Regions from separate parts of the Homo sapiens genome. Here regions 1, 3, 4, 5, 6 and 7 are each reported to be linked to region 2. The links are microRNA targets in miRTarBase. Many come from high-throughput screens and were not tested one by one. Region 2 holds a microRNA gene; each other region holds the end of a gene's coding sequence.
The links. The annotated mature microRNA hsa-miR-3202 reads UGGAAGGGAGAAGAGCUUUAAU and lies in region 2 at 2,231-2,252, opposite strand. An mRNA with a match to its seed (bases 2 to 7 or 8) in the 3' UTR can be bound and repressed. Matches are read on the target gene's strand: a 7mer-m8 pairs with bases 2 to 8, a 7mer-A1 pairs with bases 2 to 7 and ends in A, and an 8mer does both.

Region 1 (4,145 bases), not on the chromosome of region 2:
AGAAAAGAAACAGTCCCAGTATGCATCCATGTGCATGTGCATGCAGGTGTATCTGCCTGTGAGAGCTGCGCACGCGGCTCTGAGTACCTGGGAAGACACCCATGTACAGATGCTGTACATGTGCGGGGTCACTCTCTGGCGCATTCGGAGGCATGAGGGCTACGTGCAATGCGAGGGAACCTATGTCCAGGCTTCCTTTCTTGGTTTTCCTCCTCTGAACTCATGCATCCCTTCACAAACAGTCCAGCTCCTGGCTAAAAACCTATGTGTGATTTTTCAGCCCAAACACAGGCAATGACAGGTTTTACCTGGCAGGCCTCACAGCTGAGTCGTGCACAGCTGATGCGTTGCAGTCTTTAAAGACAGTTGCAGACACAGACTCAGGCCTCCTGGACAGTCGACCTCTCACACACATCTCCGCTCCCAACCCAAGTCTTCATTCAGACACGTCTTCATTGCAGTGGGGTAGGCCTTCGGCCAGGACCTCCTTATCTTGGGGAGTGGAGAATCCTTGAAGACACTTTCCTCCATGCTGACTCAGAAGTTTTCCCACTCTCCCTTCCCCACCCCATCCCTGGCCCCCAGGTCCGTACAACTTCAGGAGCCTTTTTGTTGGAAGCTTTTCTGCAGTGAGACCAACCCCACACCTGTGCTCATCCACCCGACCCCAGTTGGCATCATTCTATGAGGAAATTAGAACAGGTGGATCTGTGTTCTACAAAATAAAACAAACCAGGTTCTCTGGTTTAGCCTCTTTCTTGTACTGTAATAATAAGAGATTTGGGGCTTGGCTATTACTTGCTTTGACTTTTTTTGTTTTGAGACAGGGTTTCGCTCTGTCACCCAGGCTGGAGTGCAGTGGTGCGATCTCGGCTCACTGCAACCTCCGCCTCCTGGGCTCAAGCAATCCTCCCACCTCAGTCTCCCTAGTAGCTAGGACTACAGGTGCACACCATCATGCCCAGCTAATTTTTATATTTTTTATAGAGATGGGGTTTCACCATGTTGTCCAGTCTGGTCTCAAATTCCTGAGATCAAGCAACCCACTGGCCTCAGCCTCCCAAAGTGTGAGGATTACAGGCCTGAGCCACCATGCCGGGCCATCATTAATCAGCTACTCCAGCACTTAGCAGTTCAGCTCTCTCCTGCTCAGCTGAGCTCCTGATTGTACAGTGGTTAAGAGCAAACTGCCTCTGCCACTTAGTAACCTGGTGACTTGAAAAATCACTTTGCCTTTTCATCCTTTGGTTTCTTCATCTGTAAAATGAAAATAACAATAAACAATACCTACTTCACAGGGTGGTTGTTGTGAGGGTGTAGTGAGTTGATGTATGTAAAGCATAACGTAGGTTCCATTGAAGTGTTTGCTATTGTGTTCAACAGGGTCCATTTCTGCTTGGAGATCCACATGGCTCTGGGGAGTACCTGTTGGCTCAGCCTAGGTCACGTGTTCCACCTTAACCATCCCTTCCCTGCTCCAAGGTAGAGCCCGTGACCTGAACTAAACCAGCAGGCACGCTCCACCTCCAACACCGGCTCAAGGTGGGCGTGTAATATAAGCTGGTTCAATTAGAATGAATCTTTTTTTTTTTTTTTTAAAGACGGAGTCTCATCCCCCATCACCCAGACTGGAGAGCAGTGGCACAATCTCAGCTCACTGCAACCTCTGCCTCCCAGGTTCAAGCAATTATCCTGCTTCAGCCTCCTGAGTAGCTGGGATTACAGGTGCCTGCTGCCACGCCCAGCTCATTTTTGTATTTTTAGTAGACACAGGGTGTTGCCATGTTGGCCAGGATGGTCTCGAACTCCTGACCTCAAGTGATCCACCCACCTCGGCCTCCCAAAGTGCTAGGATTACAGGCGTGAACCACTGTGCCCAGCCCAATTACAGTGAATCTTAATACACTGGCTGAAAATTCTGGGACACAGCCAGTCTCTCTCTTTCCAACAGGACATGTACAAGGACCTGTACAACCCTGGGAGATGCTGGCATATTGGGGCCACAAGCAGTGCTGACCTGAAGAAAAGGGCAACACCTCAGAAAACAAAGTAGATAAATAGAAACCAAGTCCTTGGTGCCATCACTTGATTTCTGGACAAAGCCTCACCTAAGCTATTTATTGACCTGAGCCCTTCATAGTTTAGGCCAATGTGATTTGGTTGTTTTGTTACCTGTAACCAAGTATCTTAACACAAAGTGGATCTGTGAGTGACCAGAGCCTCTTGGGGGTTGTAGCAATCTAGTAGTTGGCCCAGAAAGGCCAACTCTGAGATGGAGTGTAGGGTGCAGAATGTTGAGTAATGAGTGCTCTTGGAATCAACAACTGAGGAAGACAGAAATATGCAGGATTGGGCACAGGGAGAAGTTCAGCTGCAGTGCAGGCCCAAGGGTAGTTGCAGCTGAGCCTTCAGGAAGTTCTGGAGCCAGAGTAGCCCTTCTGAGTTGTTCCAAGCACTGAAGGCCTAGCAAGTTCCAGGGGTATTAAAATCAATAAGCCTGTCAGCCCCGACAATGCCCTCAATAGGTCTGGGCACAGATTGGAGAGAAGCTGGGCTCCCACTGCACCAGGAGGGAGTGGCCCAGAGCCACTGAGCCATGGAGACTCAGGCAGGGGGTTGCTCCAGCACTTCTTCTGGAGAAGTTTTGAGCCCCAGATGCAGTTAGCACAGTTGCCCGCCCCTTATCATAAGACGAAGTCCGTTCCCACCACATCTTCTGCAAGACCTAGCTGGGGACCCCGAGACACTGGCAAAAAAGCAAATGTAAATCCAGCTTTATTGGTAAAAAAGGAATAGCAGATTTAATCAGAAATTCCCACCTGGCCCAGCAGCACCAACCAGAAAGAAGGGAAGAAGAGAGGAAAAAACCACAGGAAGAAAGAAAGGAGGGAGGGAGGGAGAGGAGGAAGGAAGGAGGAGGGAAGGGAAGGGGGGAAGAAGGGAGGGAGGGAGGGAGGGAAAGAAAGAGGGAGGAAGGGCAGAGGGAGCAGGGAGACTGTAGATCAGGGTCTGAATGGAGATCCGGTCCTGGAAGTAAATGATCCAAGGCTCCAGGTGCTGGGAAGAGAGCAGGAGGGGAGGGCGGCCCATGGCACTGCCATCTAGAAGGGTAGTGGCTCTTCCACAGGAATGTTGAGGATGACATCCATGTCTGGGGTGCACCTGGTGGGAGGCAGCACAGAAGGCCATGAGAGACCAGAGGTGGCGGTGTGGGAGCACCCACTCAGAGGAGCCCTGCTCTTTAGAACTCTGGTACGTACTTGGGTTGGGGGGCAATCCCAAAATACAATCTGTGATCTATCTGTGACCTCAAAGCCCAACTGTGCATACACAAGCATACACACACACACACACACACACACACACACACACACATACACACACATCAAAAATGGAAAAGAAATGAGTTTGGCAGGACAAATGTTCCCCTGACAAGTCTGAGGTCAAGAGGGAGCAGGAACTCAGCTCTGAAATGCTGAGGGCCCTCAAGATGATCACTGGCTTTGGAGTGAGGATGACAGGTTTGATAACTTTGACCTGTGTCACCTTGAGCAAGCTATTTCTACTCTCCCAGCCTCACTCCTTCAGTTGGCACTTAAGTGAAAAGCACTCATTAAGTCCCAGACCCCAAGTGAGCCTCAGTTTCCTCATCTGTCAAATGGGTTTAATATTCTAACCTCAGTCATTGGTGGAAAGATTAAATGAGACCATGCCAGCAGGTAATAAGTGCTCAGTAAATGACAGGCATTATTATTTCCATGAAAGTAGCAAGAGAGATGGATTCCCATCAGCAATATATTCCCCATTGCAGGGACCAGCACAAATATTTAAGAGGCTGAAGGATTACATTCTGTTTCACTCTCTTTTCTCTCTTCCAAGGAGACCATCCTCTCTCATGGTTTCAATAATCTGCTGATACACATGAAGTATTTAGGCAGGAAATGTCAGGATACTTGCAATTTACAAATACTATTAAAAAAATGAACATGAAACCAACATAGAAAAAAAAAAAATTTCTAAATCTAGATGGGCAAAACTGGCTATTCATTATATCATTCTCTCTTCTTTATATTTGAAATTTTTCATAATAATAGTAAAAAAAAAAAGTTCATCTCTATGCTGGCAACACCTAAATTTCTACTTCC
Region 2 (4,145 bases):
CTGGGATTACAGGCGTGCGCCACCACGCCTGGTTAATTTTTTTGTATTTTTGTAGAGACAGGGTTTCACCATGTTGGCCAGACTGGTCTGGAACTCCTGACCTCAAGTGATCCACCCGCCTCTGCCTCCCAAAGTGTTGGGATTATAGGCGTGAGCCACCGTGCCCGGCCTAATTTTTTTGTATTTTTGGTAGAGACGGGGTTTCACCACATTGGCTAGGCTGGTCTCAAACTCCTGACCTCAGATGATCCACCTGCCTCGGCCTCCCAAAGTGCTAGGATTATAGGTGTGAGCCACTGCGCCTAGCTTTTTTTTTTTTAGAGATAGGGTCTTGCTCTGTGGCCCATAGCTCACTGCAGCCTCCATCTCCTGGGCTCAAGTGATCTTCCTGCCTCAGCCTCCTGAGGAGCTGGGACTATAGGTGCACCACCATGCCTGGCTAATTTTTATTTTATTTTTTAAATTTAATTTTATGTATTTTGTGTAGAGACAGGGTCTCACTTTGTTGCCCAGGCTGGTCTCAAACTCCTGGACTCAAGCAGTCCTCTCACCTTGGCCTTCCAAATTGCTGGGATTACAGATGTGAGCCACCATGCCCAGCTACATATGCTTTTTGATGTATAACAGGGTAATGTCCAGATAAACCCATCATAAGTCGAAAATATAGGAACTGGACTTTCAACTTAAGAGGGGTTTAGCTGGGTGCAGTGGCTCACTCCTGTAATCTCAGGACTTTGGGAGGCCAAGGCAGGAGGATCACTTGAGGCCAAGAGTTCGAGACCAGGCTGGGCAACATGGTGAGACCCTGTCTCTACAATTTTTTTTTTTTTTTTTTTTTAGATGGAGTCGCGCTCTGTCGCCCAGGTTGGAGTGCAGTGGCGCGATCTCAGCTCACTGCAAGCTCCGCCTCCAGGGTTCACGCCATTCTCCTGCCTCAGCCTCCCGAGTAGCTGGGACAACAGGCGCCCACCACCACGCCTGGCTATTTTTTGTATTGTTTTAGTAGAGACGGGGTTTCACCGTGTTAGCCAGGATGCTCTCGATCTCCTGACCTCGTGATCCACCCGCCTTGGCCTCCCAAAGTGCTGGGATTACAGGCATGAGCCACCATGCCTGGCCCAAAATTTTTTTAACAAAAATTAGCAGGGCAGGCCGGGCGCTGTGGTAGGGAGGCTGAGGTAGGAGAATGGCGTGAACCCGGGAGATGGAGCTTGCAGTGAGCCAAGATCGCACCACTGCACTCCAGCCTGGGCAACAGAGCAAGACTCCGTCTCAAAAAAAAAAAAAAAAATTAGCAGGGCAAGGTGGTGGTATATCCCTGGTCCCAACTACTTGGGAGGCTGAGGCAGGAGGATAGCTTGGGCCCAGGAGGTGGAGGCTGCAGTGAGCTGTGATTGTGCCACTGCACCCCAGCCTGGGCAACAGAGCAAGACCCCCGTGTCTAAATAAAAATACCCAGGCCATGGCAGCAGAAAGCAAGGAAGAAGCCACGTGGAAGCCCTCCTGGCGCTTCTTCCAGGGAGGTGAGCAGAGAGCACCTGGGGCCAGGAGGCGGCATGCCTGGGTTTCTGCTCCTCCTCACTGTAACTTTCAGCCAAGTCAAACTGCTAGAGTTTCAGTTTCTTTATCTGTGAAATGCCGGGGCTGGCACAGATGGTTTCTAAGATCCCTCCCAGGCCTGGAACTTCTAAGCGATTAGGTCAAAGGTGAGCTAACCGGGCTGGGCACAGTGGCTCATACCTGTGAATCCCAGCACTTTGGGAGGCTGAGGCGGGTGGATCACTTGAGGTCAGGAGTTCAAGACCAGCCTGGCCAACGTGGTGAAACCCCAACTCTACTAAAAATAGAAAAGTTAGCCGGGCATGGTGGTACACGCCTCTAATCACCGCTACTAGGGAGGCTGAGGCAGGAGAATCACCTGAACCTGGGAGGCGGAGGTTGCAGTGAGCCAAGATTGTGCCACTGCACTCTAGCCTGGGCAACAGAGTGAGACTCCGTCTCAAAAAAAAAAAAAAAGGTGCACAAACCGAGGCCCAAGACAGTTAAGGTGCAAGATCACATGGTTAGTAAGTGGGAGAGCCAAGGTTTGAACAGTCTGGCATCAGCTGACCAGGAACTGGAGCCCACCCTTCTCTCTCCCTGAGCCCGCCTACCCGCCCACCCTCTTGAGTGCGAAATTTATTAATATGGAAGGGAGAAGAGCTTTAATGATTGGAGTCATTTTCAGAGCATTAAAGCTCTTCTCCCTTCCATATTAATGTATTTCTCAGCTACTAGGGCTCACTTACAGCACCAGTGGCCCCAAAGCAGTTGACAGTCAGTGGTAATTAAATTGTCTCTCTGGTTCTGTGACTGAAGGAGACAGAAGGCTTTATGGTGGCCTGAGGAAAGAAGGTGATTTGGGGCTTGGCACTTCAGGAGAGGGCAGGCGAGTGAGCCAGGGAAGCTGGCCTGGGAAGCCTGCGGGTCACCCCCTTGCCTCCCGGCCTGGTGCTTGAGTGGCAGACGGTGAATCCTCCTCCTCCTCCATCCCCCACCTTGTGTCAGAGGCCAGAGCTCGGACTCCATCTAATGGTCTCTAGTTCAGCTGGGTATTTGGTGAAAAGGGCTTTGGGGCTGGAGACGTCCACTTTTATAACACACTGACATGGGAAGGCGCATTCTGAGTTGTAATGACAGAGCTAGACAGGTCTTGTCTGTAGATGCAGTGGCTTTAAGGAAACTAGGACGATGGGCAGGATTTTCCTAGGTGCCAGGAGAAAGGGGTGATAGAGGATTCTAGAGGCTTGAGAGAGTCAGTGTGCAGCGGTTTCACTCTGATTTGCTTCTCCAGTGAAGATGGTTGGTAGCTCCTGAGGCCGGGGGTCAGGAACATGGAGGCGGTGCTGGGGACGGTTTGTTTTCTAACCACACTCCTTTTGTAACCACAAAGGAAAAAGGCAGAACGTTCCTCCGCTGGCGCCAGCCAATCAGCAGGACTCCTGCCTTCCTTCGGGGCAAGGTCGCAGCATCTGCCTCGGAAATCACGAAATCACGGGGCTTCTTTCTGCTGGCTCAGCCGGGAGGCCCAGAGTGTTCTGCAGAGGCTGCGTATTGAAGGCTGCTCTCTGAAGCTCCCTGCCCCAGGTCACGCCGCCGGTTCCAGATGAATCCAGAGTGGGGGCAGGCCTTCGTGCACGTGGCCGTGGCCGGTGGCCTCTGTGCCGTGGCTGTGTTCACGGGCATTTTCGACAGTGTTTCCGTGCAAGTGGGCTATGAGCACTACGCCGAGGCGCCCGTGGCCGGCCTCCCTGCCTTCCTGGCCATGCCGTTCAACTCACTCGTGAACATGGCCTACACGCTGCTGGGGCTGTCGTGGCTGCACAGGGGCGGCGCGATGGGGCTGGGTCCCCGCTACCTGAAGGACGTGTTCGCAGCCATGGCCCTGCTCTATGGCCCCGTGCAGTGGCTGCGCCTGTGGACGCAGTGGCGCCGTGCCGCGGTGCTGGACCAGTGGCTCACACTGCCCATCTTTGCATGGCCCGTGGCCTGGTGCCTCTACCTAGACCGCGGCTGGCGGCCCTGGCTGTTCCTCTCTCTTGAGTGCGTCTCCCTGGCCAGTTATGGCCTCGCTCTGCTGCATCCCCAGGGCTTCGAGGTCGCACTGGGTGCTCACGTGGTGGCCGCTGTGGGGCAGGCGCTGCGCACCCACAGGCACTATGGCAGCACCACCTCGGCTACCTACTTAGCTTTGGGGGTGCTCTCTTGCCTGGGCTTTGTGGTCCTCAAGCTGTGTGACCATCAGCTCGCACGGTGGCGTCTCTTCCAGTGCCTCACAGGCCACTTCTGGTCCAAGGTCTGTGACGTGCTCCAGTTCCACTTTGCGTTTTTGTTTCTGACGCATTTCAACACTCACCCAAGATTCCATCCCTCTGGCGGGAAGACGCGTTGAACCCAGGGAAGAACCTGCTGAAAACCGATGACCCCCAGCATTGAAATGGACTCTGAGATGGCAGCGTGGTGCCAGTGTCAGACATCCTGTGTGTGATGATATGCACTGATCACACAAGACTGCCCTTTCCTGAGAAGCTGCGGGCTTCGGTGTGGAGGGGTGGAGTGCTGTGATCTCGACAACTTACTTTCAAAGACATAAAGCACAGATCTCC
Region 3 (4,145 bases), not on the chromosome of region 2:
CAGTAGGAAGTTCATTGCGGTCTATGCTACTGAAATGTAATTAGGGGGGCATTATGGTTCTAGAGAAAAAGCATCAGTTTGGGAGGCAAATGTGCTCCTTGCTACATGGATGACTTGGAAGCCTGTCATTTAACTGTTCTGATTCAGTTTCTTCCTCATCTATTGTGCTGAGGACAATATCACCTAACCCGCAGCACAGATGTGAAAATTAACTTTTCTAACCTAAAGTGCAATTCAACTAACACTGTGGTAATGACATACTCAACCAAAGTCAAATTATTATTTTTGGATTATCTATCTCACTGGTCCCTAGCAATATCTGACAAAGTTGAGAACGCTGGAATACACAAAGTAAAACCCAACCTCACCACTAAAACAAAAATACAGTTTAAGGCCCAAGATGTCTAATTACAAATTAACAGGTCTTAAAAAACTAAGACCCACTGAACCAAACAAATCTTATCTAACTAAAATACTCATGAGGCCAGGTGCAATGGTGCACACCTGTAGTTCCGGCTACTTGGAAGGCAGGAGAACTGATGAGGCCAGGAGCTTGAGACCAGCCTGACAACATAGCAAGACCTTGCCTCTATAAAAATAAAAATTTAAAAAAAAAATCTCATGGGTCAAGAGTTCTAAGCTCAGTAGCTAATAACTATACATTGGGCCATTCCTACGGATGAAAATTTTCATTTTAAAATCTGAAAATGTTCAATGTGATGAGCTCCTACTGCTGCCACCTATAGAAAATGTTGCCCTAACTTATAATGATTTTCCAGCAGTGGAAACGTATACATCTCTAAGCTCTCAGGTTTACTCTACATGCAATAATGTACATAATTGTACAAGGATTCTCAACAGTTCTGATCATGATGCTAATCCTATTTCTTAGGTCCAATACTATCATTCAAAACCTCACAATCATCCCAACTCTGATGACAGAAAGCACTGGGGAAGCTTTCTATTTTCTGAGATTGTGCAGTAATTCCCTGCAACAAATTACAAGCAGCATCAGTATGTATTGCTACCACCTCTCCACATTTACACCAACATACACAACACACACATACATTTGGTACAAATAATAAAAAGTGAAATTACTAATTCCTTAGAGTAGATGTTACTGCAATTCTTGAAACAGATTTCCATTTCCTAGTTTGTTATTTATCTGAGGCTGAGTTTCAAAAGAATGAGTCTTCATTCCAGTTTTCCTAATCCCACAGCTCCACCCACCCACAGGAATAGGGACTATCAGTGTTCTCAATGGGGTTGCTTCATTTTTACACAACATTTGGTATCCTTAGACCCCACCCAATAAATGCCAGATGCATGTCTCTCCAACAACCCTTCCAAATTTCACACATTTCCAAATGTCCTCTAGTATGTGATAACACCAAGCTGAGGATTGCTGCATCTAGTTAATGCCCTTAAGTCTCCAAGTAGGAAGAACTTCTGTTTTGAAATGTATAATTTAGTATTCACTCATGAAGGATAATTTCTAGGCTATCCATAATTTATGACCTTGAAGTTACCACAAAGTAATTTTTTTTTCCAAAGTGACTCAGACTAAACTTTTCTTTCCACCCACCACATGCTTAATATAAGCTACAAAAGTATAAGTTGTATTTCTTCCTATTATCAGTGATCTGGGCCAAAAGTGGTTACCAAAGTTACTTTAACCCTACAAAAAAGCCATGTGATTCAGTTACATTAAGTTTATGTAAAGGAGATGCTGCCAATTTTCAAATATTTGAGGAACTGGAACCAAACTGGTAATACCAACTTCACTGTGGTCTTAACCATCACAGCAAACCTAGAGTTTCTCAGTAATGCAAACCAAATATTCCTATGCTATCCTCAAACGACAGTCCTAAAGATGAATACTGTTAAGAAAATAAATACGCTGAATTTTACAACCTGGTTGCCCTTCAATTAGTAATGACAATCACACAAAAGTTTGTTTCACACGTGTAAACAAAACCTTCACCCATCTCACACACAGCACTCAACAAATAACACATATGTGAAACGAGTATTAGTCTATATTGCCAGATTAAATTTTCTTCCAGAAATATTTTAATAAAAATTGGCCATTTCCAAGTAACACCCACTGCATGCCCATCAATAAAAGAGAACCATAACAAAATAGAAAATTTACCATATGGCTATGATTTTAAGAAAAAAAAAAATGCGGACACGAGCACATGAGCAAAGTCCAATATTAAAGTAACATTCCTTCTTACGGGCTATGATTAGGAATCTGATTAGATACCAGAATAAAAATACAAATGCTGAACTATTTAGGTCAAAGAACCTCTATAGAAGCATCTGTCTTCAAAGGCATTCCAGTTTGAGACTCAATTTTAGAATAAGGCATAACAAATATGTTAACAAAAGACATACACAAAGTGATGAAAGAGGGATTCTATAATTCCCCACATACTCTGAACCTAATAAAACAAATCTAGATTTTTTTTTTAAACAATTGCCAAGACTGAAATCAAAGATAAATAGAAGGCACAACAGTTTTGCTCTGGTTGTTATCTGGGTTTTGGGAATTTTTTTGCTTTTTGTTTTTTTACAAATACAAATTAAACATGAAAAAACTACTTCAAAAAAACTAACAGTTCAAGAAAAGCCTATCAGTTGCATTCTAGACATTTAAAACCTATTATCACAATTTAAATTTCAATGGTAAAAACAGTTAGGTTTTAGAATTGTTTTGTGATCCTTTATCAAAAAAAAATTCTATTCCTTTTATTCAGTTTTTAAACATACCAGTGAGAATCAAAATTGTCAAATTTTCCAATGGCAATTTCTCCACACCAGAAGGTAGTCATGACTCTCAAAGAAGAAACAATTTGGGTTTTTCCTGCCTTCAAAATATTATCAAATCCTGTATTTCTTACAGGCTTTTCAAACACGTAGAAAATAAGAAATATTCCAATGAATGAAACATACCAAATGTCAGTAATATGCAAGACATTCCTTTGGGGAAATGGCTGTAAAAAAAAAAAAAAAATCCAGTCTGTATATGCAAAGTAAGCAAGGAAATTCAGTCTTTTTTTTTGCTTCTTTAAAAGTCCGTTATTCCTAAAATATCATTCCACAAAATTGGAAGTGAAAGACTAAAGGTCAGGAAAGGGAAGAGAGGGAGAGGGAGCACACACCATTAACACACAAAAAAAGTAAAATTATACAAACTTAAGCAGTTTATAACAGACTGGGGTCATACTCCAAGATACCAAAGGCTGTCGAAAATTCACCATTCTGTTGGAACCAGGGTTTGTATGGCTGCATGAAGATCCATGAAGATTCACTGCCGTGGCGCAAGCCCCCTTCCCACTCCAAATCCTGGTTTCTGCACCATGCCTCCACGGGGAGGGCCTCTCATTCCACCACCCAGCCCACCTCGAGGGCCTCCAGGTCCCCGAAGGCGATTATCTCGTCGGTCGCCTTCCCTGGCAGCTCGAGTCTTCTTCTCTTCGACATTCAGACGGACCTCACCTCTGAACATGATGGGCTGTAAGAATCAAGGTGACCAGACTTAAGAGTACTGATGAGCTGGCTATCACTATCAAAGATAAAGAAAGCTGTAATAATGAACCAGCAGAGGCTGGGCACGGTGACTCATGCCTGTAATCCCAGCACTTTGGGAGGCCGAGACGGGTGGATTACGAGGTCAGGAGTTCAAGACCAGCCTGACCAACATGGTGAAACCCCGTCTCTACTAAAAAAACACAAAAATTAGCCAGACATGGTGACACACGCCTGTAGTTCCAGCTATTCAAGGAGGCTGAGGCAGGAGAATTGCTTGAACCCAGGAGGCGGAGGTTGCAGTGAGCCAAGATCACGCCATTGTACTCCAGTCTGGGAAAAAGAGCGAGACTCCGACTCAGAAAAAAAAAAGAACCAGCAGATTATAAATCAGCTAAGTTCTCACAGTTCAGTTTTTTGTTTGTTTTTTTAATGAGACAGAGTTTCACTCGTCACCCAGACTGGAGTGCAACTTGAACCCGGGTGGCGGAAGTTGTGGTGAGCCAAGGTCGTGCCACTGCACTCCAGCATGGGCGACAGAGTGAGACTCCGTCCCAATAAAAAATAAAAAATAAAAAAAATTGCCACCTTCTCCATAGATTTGGAGG
Region 4 (3,936 bases), not on the chromosome of region 2:
GACCCAGGAGGTGGGCATGGTGGCTCACGCCCATAATCCCAACACTTTAGGAGGCCGAGGTAGGCAGATCACTTGAGGTCAGGAGTTCAAGACCAGCCTGGCCAACACGGTGAAACCCTGTCTCTACTAAAAATACAAAAATTCACGGGGCATGGTGGCAGGTGCCTGTAGTCCCAGCTACTTGGGAGGCTGAGGCAGGAGAATCGCTTGAATCCAGGAGGTGGAGGTTGCAATGAGCCAAGATCACACCACTGTACTCCAGCTTGGGCAACAGAGCCTGACTCCGTCTAAAAAAAAAAAAAAAAGAAAGAAAGAAAAAGAAAAAAAGAATGACCCAGGAGACACAGAATGATTTCAGTCATTTTCTTTGAAACTTGATGTTGCCATAATTATGGCTGGTAATTCAGAATGGGAGTCGCTATTTCTCTTGAGATAGTCTCAGATCCTTATCTTCCCCTGAGCTGGGGTTGAGTTCATGGGAGGCTGTGGGAGCGGCAAAGGCTCTCAGGAGAGACATTTATACTGATTTATACTGGACAAGTTTCTTTCTTGGCTGTTTCCACATTCCTTGTTGAAGGGTTATCTGGGTACATGTACCCAAGATCTCCTTAGACATGGAAGACTAATTTTTGTATTATAGTTTTCCATCCCAATGATTTTAATTAAGAAAAACCCTGGCTGCCAGTCTCCGAAAGAATGCTTACTTTTTCCTGACAAAAGGCAGTACCTTGGCGTAGAGGTACAGAGAATAAAGGCTGCAGGATCTTGGGGGAACTTTTCTAGGGGGGAATGACTGATGGGAAGTCTTCTCAGTAGAACAGACATCCACCTTACCCCCTATTCCTCAGCCAGGAGGAAGCCCTGGGGCTCCCCAGGGACCACGCTGGAGGTCATTTTCTTTGGCTTTCTATTGCGATAGTCCATTTTCCCTGCATCTTCTCAACGTTCCAAGGACCTGGGATGGAGTTGTCTCCAATGTAATAAATCACCTCTCTGTGTCCCATCACCAGTCAGTGTTATTATTATAATCCCCATTAATACTCTGCCAGCTCTTTTATCTGATGGGAAGGGCTCCTCACCTGGCCCAACCAGGTAAGGGATACTGATGTCACAAGCATTAAAGATGGGCTCCTCTCCCGTCCTCCTGCCTTGTTCTTCAGAATGACTCTGTATAAACTATAGAGCAACGCTCAAGGCCATTTGTGTGGCCATCAGGACTGACAGCAGCTCTTTTTTTTTTTTCTTCTTCCCAGCGCCACTTAGCCCCTGAAGTGTTTCGGGAAATCTTTGGAATGTCCATACAGGAGTTTGACAGGTTACCTCTTTGGAGACGCAACGACATGAAGAAAAAAGCAAAACTCTTCTAAGTCCCACTCGTGAATGGCAATTAGAGAAAGGACTGACAGTGGCGGTGCCCCATAGGATGTCATATTGAGGCCCAAACTTGATTGGAGAATTTGCAAACTACCGTCGCTCAGCAACACCAAAAAGAGAAAGTCTGGTTAAAACACCATGAGTCAAATGTCGGGCCAGCCAACAGTAACACTTGCCAAGAAGCATGGCGTAGAAATTTCTATGTTCCGAAACACAGAGTAGTGTCCACATGTGAGCTTTTCACATTACCTTATGTATACAACAGGAGCTGCGTTGTTTTCTTCTTTTTCTTTTCCTTTATCTGTTGTCCAACAACAGTGCTGACTGTCCGGATAAGAGCTGGCAAGTGCCCTTAGGATGCCGCATGGGAAAAATCGGTTATCATAATTTCAAAGTATAAATATATTTATTAAGTAGCGCTGCGGCTAAGAAGGAAGAGTGAGGGGTCTGTCCATGGGGTGGCAGTGATTTCACACCCGCCTTTCTTGAATGGCTTCGTGTTACTCAGCCGTGCCCTGGCAGGAATGGAACTCCATCAGGGAACAGGGCAGCTCTGTTTGAATGGGGTGAAAAACAGCAAAATTAATTCTTAGCAAGCTCCTTGTTCTCTACTGTTCACCGGGACCTGGCTGGCAAATGACTTAGCTATTAGTATATTTAAAAACTGTTCAAAAGCAAAAGAGAAGGAACAGGAATGAAAGGAAACCTTCCCTTAACTCTTTCTGCTTCCCATAGCAGGTCTGGTTCCTGCTCCCCGCCTAGGACAGGAGCTGTCTGGAGCTCCACCTTTGCAAAGAAAGGAAAAACACAAATTGCCCCCAGATTGGCCCAGTGGCATGCCATTAGGTGATTTTGCATAGGGGCCATATCATTCATGGCCAAAAAAAACCAAAAAGCAAAAAACAAAAACAAGTCCCATGTCCTACTGACTCTAGTTCTTCCAGTCGTTATCCTCTGCTGTCTCTCTGGCATCCTATGAATCAGATCAAGCCCATGCTGTTGTTGGTTTTTAAGGTTTCTTTCAATAATAGGCTAAGGAAAGACATGTTTTTCTCTTTTAAATCTCTGCAACTCCAAAGTAGACTCCTTCGAACGTATTTAATTTGGCCTTTTCAGCTTTCTTCTTGCCCAGCTCTGTCGAATTCATGGGTGTGTGTGCACATGTTGGTTTCACTCACCCAGAGTAATTTTGTGAGCATGCATGTGCTTTTTAATTTCTGCTTGAATGTTTGTCCTGCTGTGTTGCAGCTTCTAAAGACATTGTCACCGAGTGTGTGTGACTCAAAGATCAAGAGTGAGGCTAAACTGCGACCCCAACATCACTTCCTTCATGGAAAGGTGTTGGCGCTGATGTAGCTCATGGAAGGATCAGACTGGGAACCACAGAGGAAGGATGAGGTGGGATGTGGAGGTCAGAGCATCTCACGAGAGTCCCTCAGGCTCTGCAACACTAGATTCGAATATGAGCCTAGGGTTTCCCCAACACGTGCGTGCATATGAAACCACATCATGATTCCCGACGTGAGTTAGATGAGGGAGAGTTTGTGTAACTCCACACCCAGGAGGGTAAGCCACTTTATTATCATGCTTTGGGGCTGTGCTTAAGAATTTAAGCTCTGTTTTAAAGCCGAAGAAGAAAACATTTGAATTTACCTTCATATGCCACTAAGAACAAAAGCTCTGAAGTTCTTCCTGCTGGCACCAAATATTAGGATTACAAGCTGTCTCTCTGACACCAGTGGTAAAAAAGCAAGTAGAATAGTTTCTGAGTCTGTGTTGCAGCCTCTGACACGTGGCTCACCGCTGTCATTTGGGGGATGGAATGAACAGTCACTGTTCTATAGCATCCTCCTGTGCTCTTACCTAAGGAATCTAAATTGTCCTAGCCTTCCATTGCTATGCACTGAATGAGGACTACTCTCGTGTGTGTGTGTGTGTGTGTGTGTGTGTGTGTGTGTGTGTGTGTGTGTGTTGGATCTACTAACATGTTTAGCAAATGGCTCTGACAGGGTGGCCATGAGCAGATGAGACCAGCTCTTGCTTGGTTGGAAGCCACACTGCAGTTTGCAGTTTAGCCTTTGGTGTCTCAGTGGCTTCTTGCTTATTCCATGCTTTTTCTATCCCATCCTCTCTCTGTGCCCTCCTGCAATGGCAGCCTTGGCACAATGCCTGGGTGTCCTCATCCTTGCTTTACTCTGGAAAGTGTGGGGATGGAGAGGATGGTGCATTTCCAGTGCTTCCTTACCTGTCAATAACAATGGTGGCCACCTGGGTCCCAGCACTTGGCTGGTGGAGAGATTTTTTTCATTATGGAGCTAATAAAGGGTCCCTACGTTTTACATTGATTAATGAATTATCACCCAGACATGTGCAGATGAAATGTCAATATAAGAAAAATCAAGGTATTTGGGAAACATGGGCATAATCAGGTAGTTTTGCTAAAATTCCTCTTCCTTGGTCTACATAAAGAAGACATGGGTCTGTCATAGAATGGGGACATTAGACTGAAAACTGGGACAACCCCCTTCCTTATTTTATAGAGACTAGGAGTTAAGGGGCCTG
Region 5 (4,145 bases), not on the chromosome of region 2:
CGCCAGGCTAATTTTTTTTGTATTTTTAGTAGAGACCGGGTTTCACCATGTTAGCCAGAATGGTCTCGATCTCCTGACGTCGTGATCTGCCCACCTTGGCCTCCCAAAGTGCTGGGATTACAGGCGTGAGCCACTGCGCCCGGCCCAAAAAATGTAAATCATAAGATAAAGCATTGGTTTCTTGTGAACAGCTACAGCTACTTCATGCGGGGTTCTTTTGTTTTAGAACCTGTGAGTTCCACAGATAGTTGCTCCTTTGAGAAGCTGGCTGGCCTGGTTGATCACATAGCCTGTAGTTGCAAAAATACTTAACAACGATAATTCTGCACTCCTAAGAAGTTTTACTTGAGGATGCTGTCAACTTTGCTGATAGTTTTGGTAGCCATAAAAAGAATAAGCAGAAAACCCAGTTAATTAGTACCGTATTTCTGGTTTATTCTAGTGATTGAGTTGATGTCAACAGCCCCTGTCCCTTAGTTTAAATCTGCTTTTGAAGTAGCTTCCTATGGTTTAATTGCCGAATCATTTTACTTGAAAACAATTTCTTGTTCTGCTTGTTTGACTGAGTGTACTGTCTATTTTCACAGTGTTGTCATGACTGGATCTTACAATAATTTCTTCAGAATGTTTGACAGAAACACAAAGCGAGACATAACCCTAGAAGCATCGCGGGAAAACAATAAGCCTCGCACAGTTCTGAAGCCTCGCAAAGTCTGTGCAAGTGGCAAGCGAAAGAAAGATGAAATAAGTGTTGACAGCCTAGACTTCAATAAGAAAATCCTTCACACAGCCTGGCACCCCAAGGAAAATATCATTGCCGTAGCTACTACAAACAATCTGTATATATTTCAAGACAAAGTGAATTAGGGTTGGCATTCCTAGCAGAAGAACCCACTTCCTGCTTAGTTGAGATAGTTGAATCTAGCATTCGTTCCTATAAAAGAGAGAGGTCCATTGTGGCGCCCCTTTCCAGTGTTTGACAGTGTGCCATTCGACAACACATTGTTATAGCTACATGGAGAAAGCTCTGTGGATTCATCACTGTGGTGTTCTCCATGTCTGCTAGCCATTTAGGTAAGGGTAGGGCACTTTTAATTTAAATGACTTCTTGCACCATCTTGCCTAATGGACTAGATTGGACTGTATCAACATTGATTTACTCCACTTTTTATGCCTTCCATTGTGATGACGTCAAACACAGTGAAAGCCTTCAGTCATGCTATGGGATTTAATTGTGTATCCTCATTACTGTATCATTTGTGGGGTACACCCCTTCCCCCTTTTTTTAAATTAAATACAGCTCATTCTTACTGTGGCTTGTAGCATTCCTCCTCTTCTGGCCTCCTGGACTGCTCCCCTTCATCTCTTACCCTTGCCCCCTCCACCCGGTCTTGGTGGTGGTATATTAAAAAAAGAAAGAATGAAAGCACACAAAATGAGTCAGTTTGGGGTCAGTGGTATAAAGGGGGTATATGTTGCAAACAAATGTTTTAGTAACAGTTGGCTGTAATCACTCCTCGCCGTGTCTGGCACTGAAAATAAGGAAAAAAAACCTACTACTGAATAAAAGTGACAAAGAATGGAGAATCTGGTTTTCTTTTTCTTTTTAACCTACCTCTTGTAGCCAATATTTTGTGTCATACCTTTGGGCACAGTGAAACAAAATGGGTTTTCATTGTTTATTGGTATTTTTGTTAATTATTTTTAACAAGTGTTCTTTTACATGCAGGAGGAGAGGTATTGGTTCTCTATGAACATATTTTGAATATAGGTTTTATTAAGGATTTCACAATCTATAAATGCTACTAGTTTTTTTTTTTTTTTTTACCATCATGAGGGTATTGGATACATTGTGTCTCTATTTAACTCATTATGTGTTAATGAAATTGTTGTAAATGGGAACCAAATTTGTAGAACTTAATTTCTACTTTTTAGAGTGCTTAATTTCATTTTTGCCTTACTAAATAGTCAAAGACTTATAAAACATTTTTAACAAGTTAGAACTTTTTTGTTATTCAGTCATATAAAATAGCAGAAAACTAACATCAAGTGACACTGCACTAAATACTTTTTTTGTATTTTACTGCTATCAAATCAGAATGAAATATACTTTACCATAGATATTTTTCTTCTATTTTTGGTTTTCCAAAGCTATATGAAAGACAAATTTTTAAAGGTACAGCGTTCAAAAAGTGCTTAATGAACTCCAACAGCTGCCTCAAATAAAAATCTGTATATGAATACATTTTCCCTAAGCGGTGATACATTATCCAAAGATGAAGAGTGCTCCTATTTTTAATAGGTAGAATGTACCTTTGTCAGTCTTGCAGAAACTTTAATGGAGAAGAAATGGACTTTATTTTTGAAAGGTGAAATGAACAGGCATTTATATTATTAGAGAATGGTAGTCTTATTTTGGTGGAACATAATGTAACAACCTTGAATTTCAGAGGACTCTGAGTGCTTCTATGTCCACTACCTATTGTTCTATTCTTCAATAATGAAAAAGAATTCAACGAGCCGACCGTGATTCCCTCTACTACAAATATTATGTCTTGTAAGTTAGCATTTTTAGCACACAGGAGAAATTTTATGTAATAAAATTACTGTATCTTTTGGATTTAACAAATTTGTATTTGAAACACATTCTATGTCTGATAATTCTTAATGGCACTTTTACTAATTTATTTGGGGATCTTGGGTACATTCTTAATTTGTGTTTATTCTTCACGCTTGACTTGCAAGTGGGATATTCCCCTGCCACAAGTGTCAAACAGTGATATTCTTCCTGTGTTGTGACTGGACAGTTTTCCAGATCTTTTTTGGGAGATTTTCCTACAGCTTGGTTGTATGTCTTGAGATAACACCACCAAACAGCTCTCAGAAATTCTTTTTTGATTGATCAGTAGCTATGATGATTCTCCTCCATGACACTAAGGATTAGTTTATATATTTAAGAGAAATAATTGCTAAAATTAAAATGCCTCTATCAAGGAATGCTATTATAAATTATTGTTAACATTCTCAAGTATTAATTTTTTAATTTCATTGGTGTAGCAAACTCTAAGCCCAGCCACTCATTTTACATGGCCATGGTTAATCTTTTTATTAATAAAAATTATACTTAGAATAAACTTAGTCTTGTCAAGTTGCTTGTATTTCCTATTCTCTTGCCACTAATATACATGCACATACTCCATCACTTAACCTTTTAGAAGAGATTGTGGGTAGGAAAAGGACTTTCATTCTATTAACCTCTTTTGATCTTTACTTAGTGGCTGGGCAATAAGAATTGTTTTATAAACCTGTCTAAATACATGTTTATGTAACCATTAACTGCTGGATGGTAAGCTTCTGTGCAGCCCTCCGTCTCTTGGGATTAAAAAAAATGCATCCAGTCGGGCGCGGTGGCTCACTCTTGTAATCCCAACACTTTGGGAGGCCGAGGTGGGTGAATCACCTGAGGTCAGGAGTTCGAGACCAGCCTGGCCAACATGGTGAAACGCCGTCTCTACTAAAAATACAAAAATCAGCCAGGTGTGGTGGCACGTGTCTAATCGCAGCTATTCCAAAAGATGAGGCAGGAGAATTGGCTTGAATCCGGGAGGCAGAGGTTGCAGTGAGCCGAGATCGCGCCACTGCACTCCAGCCTGGGTGACAGAGCGAGACGCCGACTCAAACAAAAATGCGTCCATGCACTCTTTTCCTTTCAAAATGAAGAGAATTTTTTAAACCTTAAATGTGAGTTATTCTGGTTAGGGATACTTCTACGGAAAGCTAGAGATAGGAAAGCAGGTTCTTTCAGTGTGTGACTTTTGAGTAAGGTGTTAATTAGGAAATTGTGCACATGTGAAAGCTATGCAGTACTGATAAAGAATTTTTAGTGATATTTAAACCCTTCTAAGGGAATATTGTTTGAGCATCTTTACCACACATAAATTCAAATGTAGATAGTATTGTGCCCTTCCAGAAAAACAAAACCAATCCCCCCCAAAAGATGGAAAAGATAGGCATATGCTGGGTAGTCAAGAATCAAGTCAGTTTACTTGTGTATTTGAGAGCACCTGTACTTTAGTATCTTACTTATCTATCTGTTCAGATGGTGATAGTTTAAGCTCTGCGTGTATGTCTTACTGTGGTTAAAA
Region 6 (4,145 bases), not on the chromosome of region 2:
CTATAGCCACATTTACTATCAGTGTTCTCTTCACTATGGGAAATAGGGTTCATTAGTGCATTTAAATCTAGTTAGGCTAGAAAACAAATTCCAGAAATCCCAGAACTCATTCAGAAAACTTGTCCTTAAGATTCTATTCCTTTAGATTCTGTTATGTTTTGGTAAAGTAAGTGTGAGCAAGAAAGAGAGAAAGAGGACTATTTTGCAGCATTGGTTCAAGTGACTATCAGGGATGGAAAAACCAAAATTTGTAAGGAAGGATGGCAGGATGCAGATTCAGGGGAGAGCTGATGTTGCAGTCTCAAGTCCAAAATCATTCTGAGGGCAGATTTTGTTTTAACTTTTTATTTTCAGTTTAGGGGTACAAGTGCAGGTTTGTTACATAGGTACACTTACGCCATGGGGGTTTGTTGTACATATTATTTCATCACCAAGGTACTAAGCCTAATACCCACTAGTTATTTTTCCTGATCCTCTCCCTTCTCCCACCCTCCACCCTCTGACAGGCCCTCTATGTGTCCACGTGTTCTCATCATTTAGCTCCCACTTATAAGTGAGAACATGCAGTGTTTGTTTTTCTGTTCCTGTGTTAGTTTGCTAAGGATAATGGCCTCCAGCTCCATCCATGTCCCTGCAAAGGACATGATCTCATCCTTTTTTACAGCTGCATAGTATTCCATGGTATATAGGCACCACATTTTCTTAATCCAGTCTATCATTGATGGACATTTAGGATGATTCCGTGTCTTTGCTATTGTGAGTAGTGTTGCAATGAACATACATGTGCATGTGTTTTTATAATGGAATAGTTTATGTTTCTTTGGGTATGTACATAGCAATGGGATGGCCGGGTTGAATGGTAATTGCTGGTCTTTGAGAAATTGCCACACTGTGTTCCACAATGGCAGAACTAATTTACACTCCCACCAAGAGTGTATAAGCATTCCTTGTTCCTGGAGGCAGAATATTTTTTCCGTCTCTGGATATCAGTCTTTTCTCTTAAGACCTTTGACTGATTGGTTGAGGCCTGCCCATATTATGGAGGGCAATCTGCTTTACTCAAACTCTGCTGATTTAAATATTAGTCGCATCTAAAAAAAAAACATGTTCACAACAACATTTAGACTGGTGAATGGTGCTAGAGCAAGATCTAGGAACCATAGCCTAGCCAAGTTGACACATAAAATTAACCATCACATATGTACATATTTTTGCAAATACAATGGCAAATAAAATTCAAAAAGGCTGGGCACAGTAGCTCACACCTGTAATCCTAGCACTTTGGGAGGCTGAGGTGGGTGGATCACCTGAGGTCAGGAGTTCGAGAACCGCCTGGCCAACATGGTGAAACCCCATCTCTACCAAAAATACAAAAATTAGCAGGGCATGGTGGCAGGTACCTGTAATCCCAGCCACTTGGGACGCTGAGGTGGGAGAATCGCTTGAACCCAGGGGGCTGAGGTTGCAGTGAGCCGAGATTGTGCCACTTCACTCCAGCCTGGGCAAAAGAGTGAAACTCCATTTAAAACAAGCAAACAAAAAAAATTTCAAAAAACATGTTCAACTTTACTGATATTCAAACAAATGCAAACAAAATAAAAAAGAAATATCTTGAATTTGAGAAAGGAGACTAACAGATTTATTTACTTATTTCAAAATGACAATTATTTTAATGACTAACAAAATAGTATGTGACAGTTGGTAATAAACATATTTTGAGATGGCAATGTGAATTGGCATAACAATTCTGGATAGCAATTTGATACTTATTGAGGTGTAATGAGTTTAAATTTATAATAAGCAAATCTTTTTACACAAAAACATTGTGTTATAGGAATTTACCTGAAAGTAGAGTTATAATGTAGGAGAGATAAATGGATAAGGATGGTCATCACAGGAAATTAGATATAATAAGAGTTCAACAAGAAGAAATTGTAATGGCCTTCCTTCAAGTAGTTGTGTTGCAGGACATTGCTGATTTTGCTCAGGACCCATCCTCACCACCTCTCTTTGCTTTACATATGTACATAGACTCAGGGTATGAGATAAATATATTTTAAAAAACTATACTCAACAATACCAGCAACACTATAATAATAATAACAGTTTTGTAAAAGAACATCAATTATACTAAAAAAGTTTTGGGAAAATGTTTGAAACAAAATAGATGTTTAGGCTGGGGGCTGTGGCTCACGTCTGTAATCCTAGCACTTTGGAAGGCTGAGGTGGGCAAATAACTTGAAGTCAGGAGTTCAAGACCAACCTGGCCAACATGGTGAAACCCCATCTCTACTAAAAATACAAAAAGTAGCTGGGCGTGGTGGCACACACCTGAAATCCCAGCTACCTGGGAGGCTGAGGCAGTAGAAATGCTTCAACCCAGGAAGTGGTTGTTGCAATGAGCCGAGATGGTGCCACTGCACTGCAGCCTGAGCGACAGTGAGACTCCAACTCAAAAAAGAAGTTTAACTATTCTCTCCTTCATAAGTTTTTAATTCAAAGGAATAAATATTAAATTTGCAATAGAGAAAGCTGGCAGATCAAGTGGTCAAAGTTGTATCTCCAGGAATGGGACAATTAGACATCATGTAAGGCTTGATATCATGCTCTAAGGACAACATCACTTTTGTAGGATATTTGCAAAAATGTGTAATCTGAGCCTGGTCAAGAAGAAACATCAGAGAAACCCAAATTGAGGGGCATTCTACAAAACCAATAGTTCTTTAAAAAGGTCAATGTCAAGGAAGACAAAGAAAGACTGAAGAGCCATTTCGGTTTGGAGGAGACTGAAGAATCATGGCAACTATGTCAAGGCAATGGAGATCCTGGATTGGATTTTGAACCAACAAAATTGTCTTTTGTTATAAAGGATATTAGTAGGAAGATTGGCTAAATTTGAACAAGGTCTGTAGATACTAACATCTTGGGAGAGCCTGGAGATGAGGACAGAGTATGAAAAGCAATGAAAAAATAACAATCAGTCAAGGCAAAAAGGAATGCATATTTCTGGTTTTATTGTTTCACATCAGGCTGAGCTATGCAAAAAGACAAGCTGCAAAGGGATATAGGTCTGTGCTTTGGGCTTCCCAGAGCAACCACACATACGCAAACTGAGGTCATTAAATGGCTTGGCTTTGGGGGAGAAGTTTTGGGCCTCTGAACTCCAAGACAGAAGAATCCTCTATGCTTGAGTTGAGCCCTCACCAAGACCTCTCAACAACATGGGCAGGCCCAGAAGGAGAAGGAAGACGGAAGGGAAATATTTGGCCATTTGTGTTCTTCTAGGCTCAGGATCCACTTTAGCAGCAGCCTCCAGAGTGCTGGCCACTCCCTCCTCCACAGCAGCTGGAGCCCCCGGAGGGCTGGCTGCAGCAGCCAGAGCTCTGGGGTCTGTGGCAGTGGGACCTACGGCGCCTGTGGTGGCTCAGGCAGCAGCCACCTCCCCCAGAACTGCAGCAACCCCCAGAGCTGGAGCCACAGCTTCCCCCAGAGCTGGAGCCACAGCAGCCTCCGGAGCTGACACTGCAGCAGGAAGAGACTGGAGGACACTTAGGGGGACACTTTGGGGGGCATCTAGGGGTGAGGCACTTGGGAGGGCACTTGGGGATGCACTTGGGAGGGGGCTGGCACTGCTGCTGGTTCTGCTGGCAGGACATCTTGGTGCGGGTGTTCAGGAGCTGAGAGAGAGTCAGACAGCAAGTTAGACCCAGGTAGAGGCCACCCCGGCCTATTCTTGCCCTTTCAGCATCATTTCTAATCCCTACATTTTGATGAACTGCTTAGTGTAGTTGTAGCTAATTAATCACGGGAAGTTTCATTGTGTCTAATAGTTGGCTAAACACACTTATAGCCTCTGTTTTGAACCTAATGCTTTTTATATACTTATAAAATCATAAAGCATTTTCAACTATTTTATAATTAGAAAACCGAAGCCAAAAGATATTAAGAAAGTATTCTCAAAATCAAGCATGTAGTATGTAGAGGAGACATTCTGCTTCAACTACACACCTGAATCATGAAAACAATCTAGAAAGGGGTTTGGAAATAAAATTGTTTCTCAAGGGGAAACAGTCATTCTCTCTTGGAAGAATTTTCTAGATTACCTTGTTGTAAGGACATAGAAGTTCAGAACTGCAAAGGAAGTT
Region 7 (4,070 bases), not on the chromosome of region 2:
TTATACATATAATACATATTATATTATATGTATTATATATATACATATTATATTATATATGTATCATATAATACATATTATTATTATACATATAATAATATGTATAATAATAATAATAATCTGTCAATAATCTGTCAATATGTCTACACCCTTTTAGGTCCATTGATATTCACTTTCTGACAAAAGACAAGGCAAGGACCCACCAGCACTCCAGGTCTCACTTCATGATGATGTCATCCTCATTGAGGGCTCACAACCTGACCAACTACTGGTTTCACTTCAGTTTTGACATTTCCCAGAGCTAAAGAGCTAACCTAAGTCCCAATCACAGGTACAACCACCTTGGGGGGTGGGGGGAAGGGGGAAGACCAGTGTCCCAGGGCCCATGTTCCAGCCTAGGCCCTTCTTAAGTACTCTGACATCAACTTCATATTCAATTTATTGGGCTCTTCATAGACCCTACAAAGTCCACAGATTCTTAAGAGAAATAATGAGGTCTACATGCAGAATAAACTGAGGTTTCAATAAAATCAGAGATTATATCTATTTCTTATGCTCCTTCTTATAGCCATAGGTCTTCTGTCTAATCTATGAGTTCACTTGTGAAACAGCCCTCCAGTATATAATGGGGCAACTTAAAATGTGCATTGCCCACTTCTCACATGACTTCACAGAGAGGATTATAGTCTGCTGAGTGAGTTGACGTCTTTTTATTACTCTCCTAATGTGACATCCATGAATACCTGATCTAGGCAGTGGTCTTTCACCTCCTGCAACGCTGCTTCCAGGAACACACCAAAATGAATATTTGAGGACTTCAAGGATAGTATTTGGAAGACAGTTACTTTCTGGCGAAGGAATCCAGAAAATGCCAGATAAAAGTATTAACAGTGCTAGAGTAGGGAATTCTACAAGTGTATCATTTTCTACCAGAAGTGGTTAGGATGCCCCCTCTTGGAAGTACATCCCCTTCAGTTTTCACGTATTCTCCATTTGCTATTCTTAAACTTCTGGACCAACTCAAACACATCACTAATTATTCAAAGAATATTTGCTGTATCTATTGTGCCTCCTATAGAGAATCCAACTGGTTCATCTTCAGGATCACCGCAGAAGTCAGATCCAACTTACCACACATTCCTCCATTTAAAATACCCTGTCTTTGGAAAGTCAGGCCTCTGCACCAAAGCTAAGCCATCATATCCCCTGTGACCTGCACGTACACATCCAGATGGTCGGTTCCTGCCTTAACTGATGACATTCCACCACAAAAGAAGTGAAAATGGGCTGTTCCTGCCTTAACTGATGATATTACCTTGTGAAATTCCTTTTCCTGGCTCATCCTGGTTCAAAAGCTCCCCCACTGAGCACCTTGTGACCCCCACCCCTGCCCGCCAGAGAACCCCCTTTGACTGTAATTTTCCTTTACCTACCCAAATCCTATAAAACGGCCCCACCCCATCTCCCTTCGCTGACTCTCTTTTCCGACTCAGCCCGCCTGCACCCAGGTGATTAAAAAGCTTTATTGCTCACACAAAAATAAATAAATAAATAAATAAATAAATAAATAAATAAATAAACAAAATAAAATATCCTGTCTTTCTAATAATTACGCCCTGTCCTATCTGGTTCCCCTATGTTCTTGTGTCCTCCAGTATCACAAATATCCAGGTAGCCAGCTAAGTGCCTGCACAAATGACAGACTGCACTAAAAGAACTCCATTGACACCCTCCAGCAAGCAAAGGTCGATTGTATTGACCAGCACAAGGCTATAGGAAAGATCATTCAAGTAGAAGACACTGTCTCCATCCATGGTAGGAACTGTAACACTGCTATAAGAGCACTTCAGAGGCAGAGGTTATCATCTCACTGGTTTTCAAATATGTTTTCCTTCATCCACGTAAATACATATTATCTTTTTCCACTCTCTGCTCTATCCACCTGTAGGAGATATTACACTCCTACATCCTATGCCCCAGTAGTCTGTGCTAATAACCCCAGCAGTTAACTTGAACATGTCATGTGGAAAGCCCAGACTTATGAATAAGAAGGGTCTGAAGGGACATTTGTGGCAACAGTCCTTCCACCTTTAGAATACCTTCAAGCATTCTCTTCTAAGCAATATTCCAGCAACCAAAAATTCCTCATTTCGCTGATTAATAAACAGAAACTGGAACTGAATGGTGGCACCTAGAATAAATCCAGGGGAACTACCAGTACAATAGTTTAATTCATTGTGGGCCCTCTCTACTTGCTACCATACTTAGAATGTATATTCCAAGGCAAGTTCTCATTTTGAACTTTGGCCCAGCTGTCTAATCACCTATGAGACATAACTGGCTTACTATGTTGTAATCACTGTATAAATTGCTAACATCTTCTCTGTGATGTTCTCTTATGGAGCCTTAGAGAGATTCCTAAATCCAGTCTGAGATTCCTGAAGCATTGGTCAGTTCCTCCTTTCACCATCACCTTCAACGAATGCAACAGAACAGATCTGAATAAGGTACTTACGAACTTTTAAACTTTAATAACTTAAGTTAAAAGAGCAAAAGAAATAATCAGTTAAAATTACCTGAAAGTTGTGTATTAACATTTATAATAACTATTACACAATTTCTATATTGTATTAAAGATCCTGATTGACCAAAAGAAATCATGAGGTAAATTATGCACATGGATAACAAAATTAAGACTATAAGAAATATAAAGAAAACATTGCCCTTTTGAACTATTTACAAATTTTTAAATCATACCTGTAACCTAATGTTACTAAAGTTTAAAATTTTTAACATACCAAGTGCCTCAAGAGTTTTATAATTTATTATATAAACAACTTGATACATTTACTTATTCACTTATTAAACATTTAACAGAGTAAATGTCATTTTTCAGTAGTCTGAAAAAGAACGAGGATTCTGATAAGTTTGGGGGGGTTTTTTGCTTTCCATTAAAACAATAGTGGTTGCAAAGCTATCCCTTATTTTAAGAAAAGCAATAAAAATGTAAAGATCTGCAAAATTAGAAAGCAGAAAACTAATTTATTCTAAATATTCCGAATCCTCAATCTTTAGTAAGTAAATGTGTGAGATTAGAGCCATCTACCGGTTGAAGTGTGATGTTACACAACCCAACTGTTGGACTATTAACAAAGCAGGGAGACTTAGTTGTAGGAATTTAAATGGGGATACACATGGGCAAAAATCATCTGGTCTAGGACACTGGTTCAAGGGTTTAATAAAATACTCTCTTTTTATCAGGAAACCCAACATGTGTAACAAAGTAGGATCCCCCTGTAAAACCACCAGTAAGGGGCCTCCAACCCTGACCCTCAAAGAAAGGAGTCACTAATTAGCCTGAGAAGCAGAGGCCAGGCCAATGAAAAACCAGCCACGAGAGGTAGTTTGGGCAAATAACTGTGGTTTGGAAGGAGGCACAAAGAAGGAACAGCATTAGCAACACTGTCTCTTACCCATCTTTCCCCTGAAGACATCTTAGACACACAATGCACAAAGGACAGTGATCAATGGTCACAGAGAAATGAATAGGAGCAGGCACCTGAAAGGCTACAAACCTCTTTTCACAGGGACACAGCTTATGTGCTCATTTGATTCCACACTTAAGAAAATACTAGTATAACTTTCCTGAAAATAAAAAATAAAAAGATAACACATTTGCTTTTTTACCACAAGCCGGTAAGAACTGAGTTTCTAGGTCCGGTGGGCTTTCACCAGCCAAGTCCTGGACTGGTCTAGTCTTGGAAACAAAAGCCCAGTTTCAGGTCCCAGCCTCCTCCCTTCAAAAGGGCATGGATGTCCATAGAATCGAGGCAAGAAATAGAGCTCTCCAAGACTCCTCTCTGAGGCAGAGACCCCCAGCCTAGACAGCAGCTTGTCAGCTAGGCTTGGGGTGACAGGCTGCAGCAAAGTCCCAAAGACTCGCAAACATTCCAAGGCCACATGAAGCACAGTACCCAGCCAGGGAGCATCCACTGGGCTCTCCCAGTTCAGCTTCCATGGTGCATGCCTTTGGACAAAACCATTAGTTTGCCGGACACAGCTGGACACGG

Region 1: miRTarBase lists C20orf96 as a target of hsa-miR-3202. Seed matches in the 3' UTR shown: 7mer-m8 at 2,972-2,978, 7mer-m8 at 2,925-2,931 and 7mer-m8 at 2,920-2,926.
Region 3: miRTarBase lists G3BP1 as a target of hsa-miR-3202. Seed matches in the 3' UTR shown: 7mer-A1 at 522-528.
Region 4: the mRNA of ABLIM1 is a reported target of hsa-miR-3202. Seed matches in the 3' UTR shown: 7mer-A1 at 3,261-3,267 and 7mer-m8 at 3,897-3,903.
Region 5: the mRNA of PPP2R2A is a reported target of hsa-miR-3202. Seed matches in the 3' UTR shown: 7mer-A1 at 1,174-1,180 and 7mer-m8 at 1,271-1,277.
Region 6: miRTarBase lists LCE1B as a target of hsa-miR-3202. Seed matches in the 3' UTR shown: 7mer-m8 at 3,251-3,257.
Region 7: miRTarBase lists MARS2 as a target of hsa-miR-3202. Seed matches in the 3' UTR shown: 7mer-A1 at 3,426-3,432.

What each region holds. Positions count from the first base shown.
Region 1 is chr20:268,106-272,250 of GRCh38, forward strand. It overlaps C20orf96 (chromosome 20 open reading frame 96), which reads right to left. Exons shown (of 11, transcript NM_153269.3): 11 at 2,758-3,162. The coding sequence ends at 3,102. Among named protein-coding and RNA genes, the nearest start is that of DEFB132, 12 kb to the left of the region's middle.
Region 2 is chrX:153,978,918-153,983,062 of GRCh38, forward strand. It overlaps MIR3202-2 (microRNA 3202-2), which reads right to left and starts at 2,259; the gene lies at 2,181-2,259. It overlaps TMEM187 (transmembrane protein 187), which reads left to right. Exons shown (of 2, transcript NM_003492.3): 2 at 2,933-4,145. The coding sequence starts at 3,146. The coding sequence ends at 3,931. MIR3202-1 (microRNA 3202-1) reads left to right here and starts at 2,180; the gene lies at 2,180-2,260. RefSeq lists an enhancer at 1,557-1,666.
Region 3 is chr5:151,803,263-151,807,407 of GRCh38, reverse strand. It overlaps G3BP1 (G3BP stress granule assembly factor 1), which reads right to left. Exons shown (of 12, transcript NM_005754.3): 12 at 1-3,523. The coding sequence ends at 3,317. Among named protein-coding and RNA genes, the nearest start is that of G3BP1, 33 kb to the right of the region's middle.
Region 4 is chr10:114,433,691-114,437,626 of GRCh38, reverse strand. ABLIM1 (actin binding LIM protein 1) reads left to right here. Exons shown (of 23, transcript NM_002313.7): 23 at 1,254-3,936. The coding sequence ends at 1,367. Among named protein-coding and RNA genes, the nearest start is that of AFAP1L2, 31 kb to the right of the region's middle.
Region 5 is chr8:26,369,547-26,373,691 of GRCh38, forward strand. PPP2R2A (protein phosphatase 2 regulatory subunit Balpha) reads left to right here. Exons shown (of 10, transcript NM_002717.4): 10 at 588-3,134. The coding sequence ends at 867. Among named protein-coding and RNA genes, the nearest start is that of BNIP3L, 11 kb to the right of the region's middle.
Region 6 is chr1:152,811,958-152,816,102 of GRCh38, reverse strand. It overlaps LCE1B (late cornified envelope 1B), which reads right to left and starts at 4,132. Exons shown (of 1, transcript NM_178349.2): 1 at 2,995-4,132. The coding sequence starts at 3,656. The coding sequence ends at 3,300.
Region 7 is chr2:197,706,829-197,710,898 of GRCh38, reverse strand. MARS2 (methionyl-tRNA synthetase 2, mitochondrial) reads right to left here. Exons shown (of 1, transcript NM_138395.4): 1 at 2,504-4,070. The coding sequence ends at 3,712. Among named protein-coding and RNA genes, the nearest start is that of MARS2, 3.5 kb to the right of the region's middle.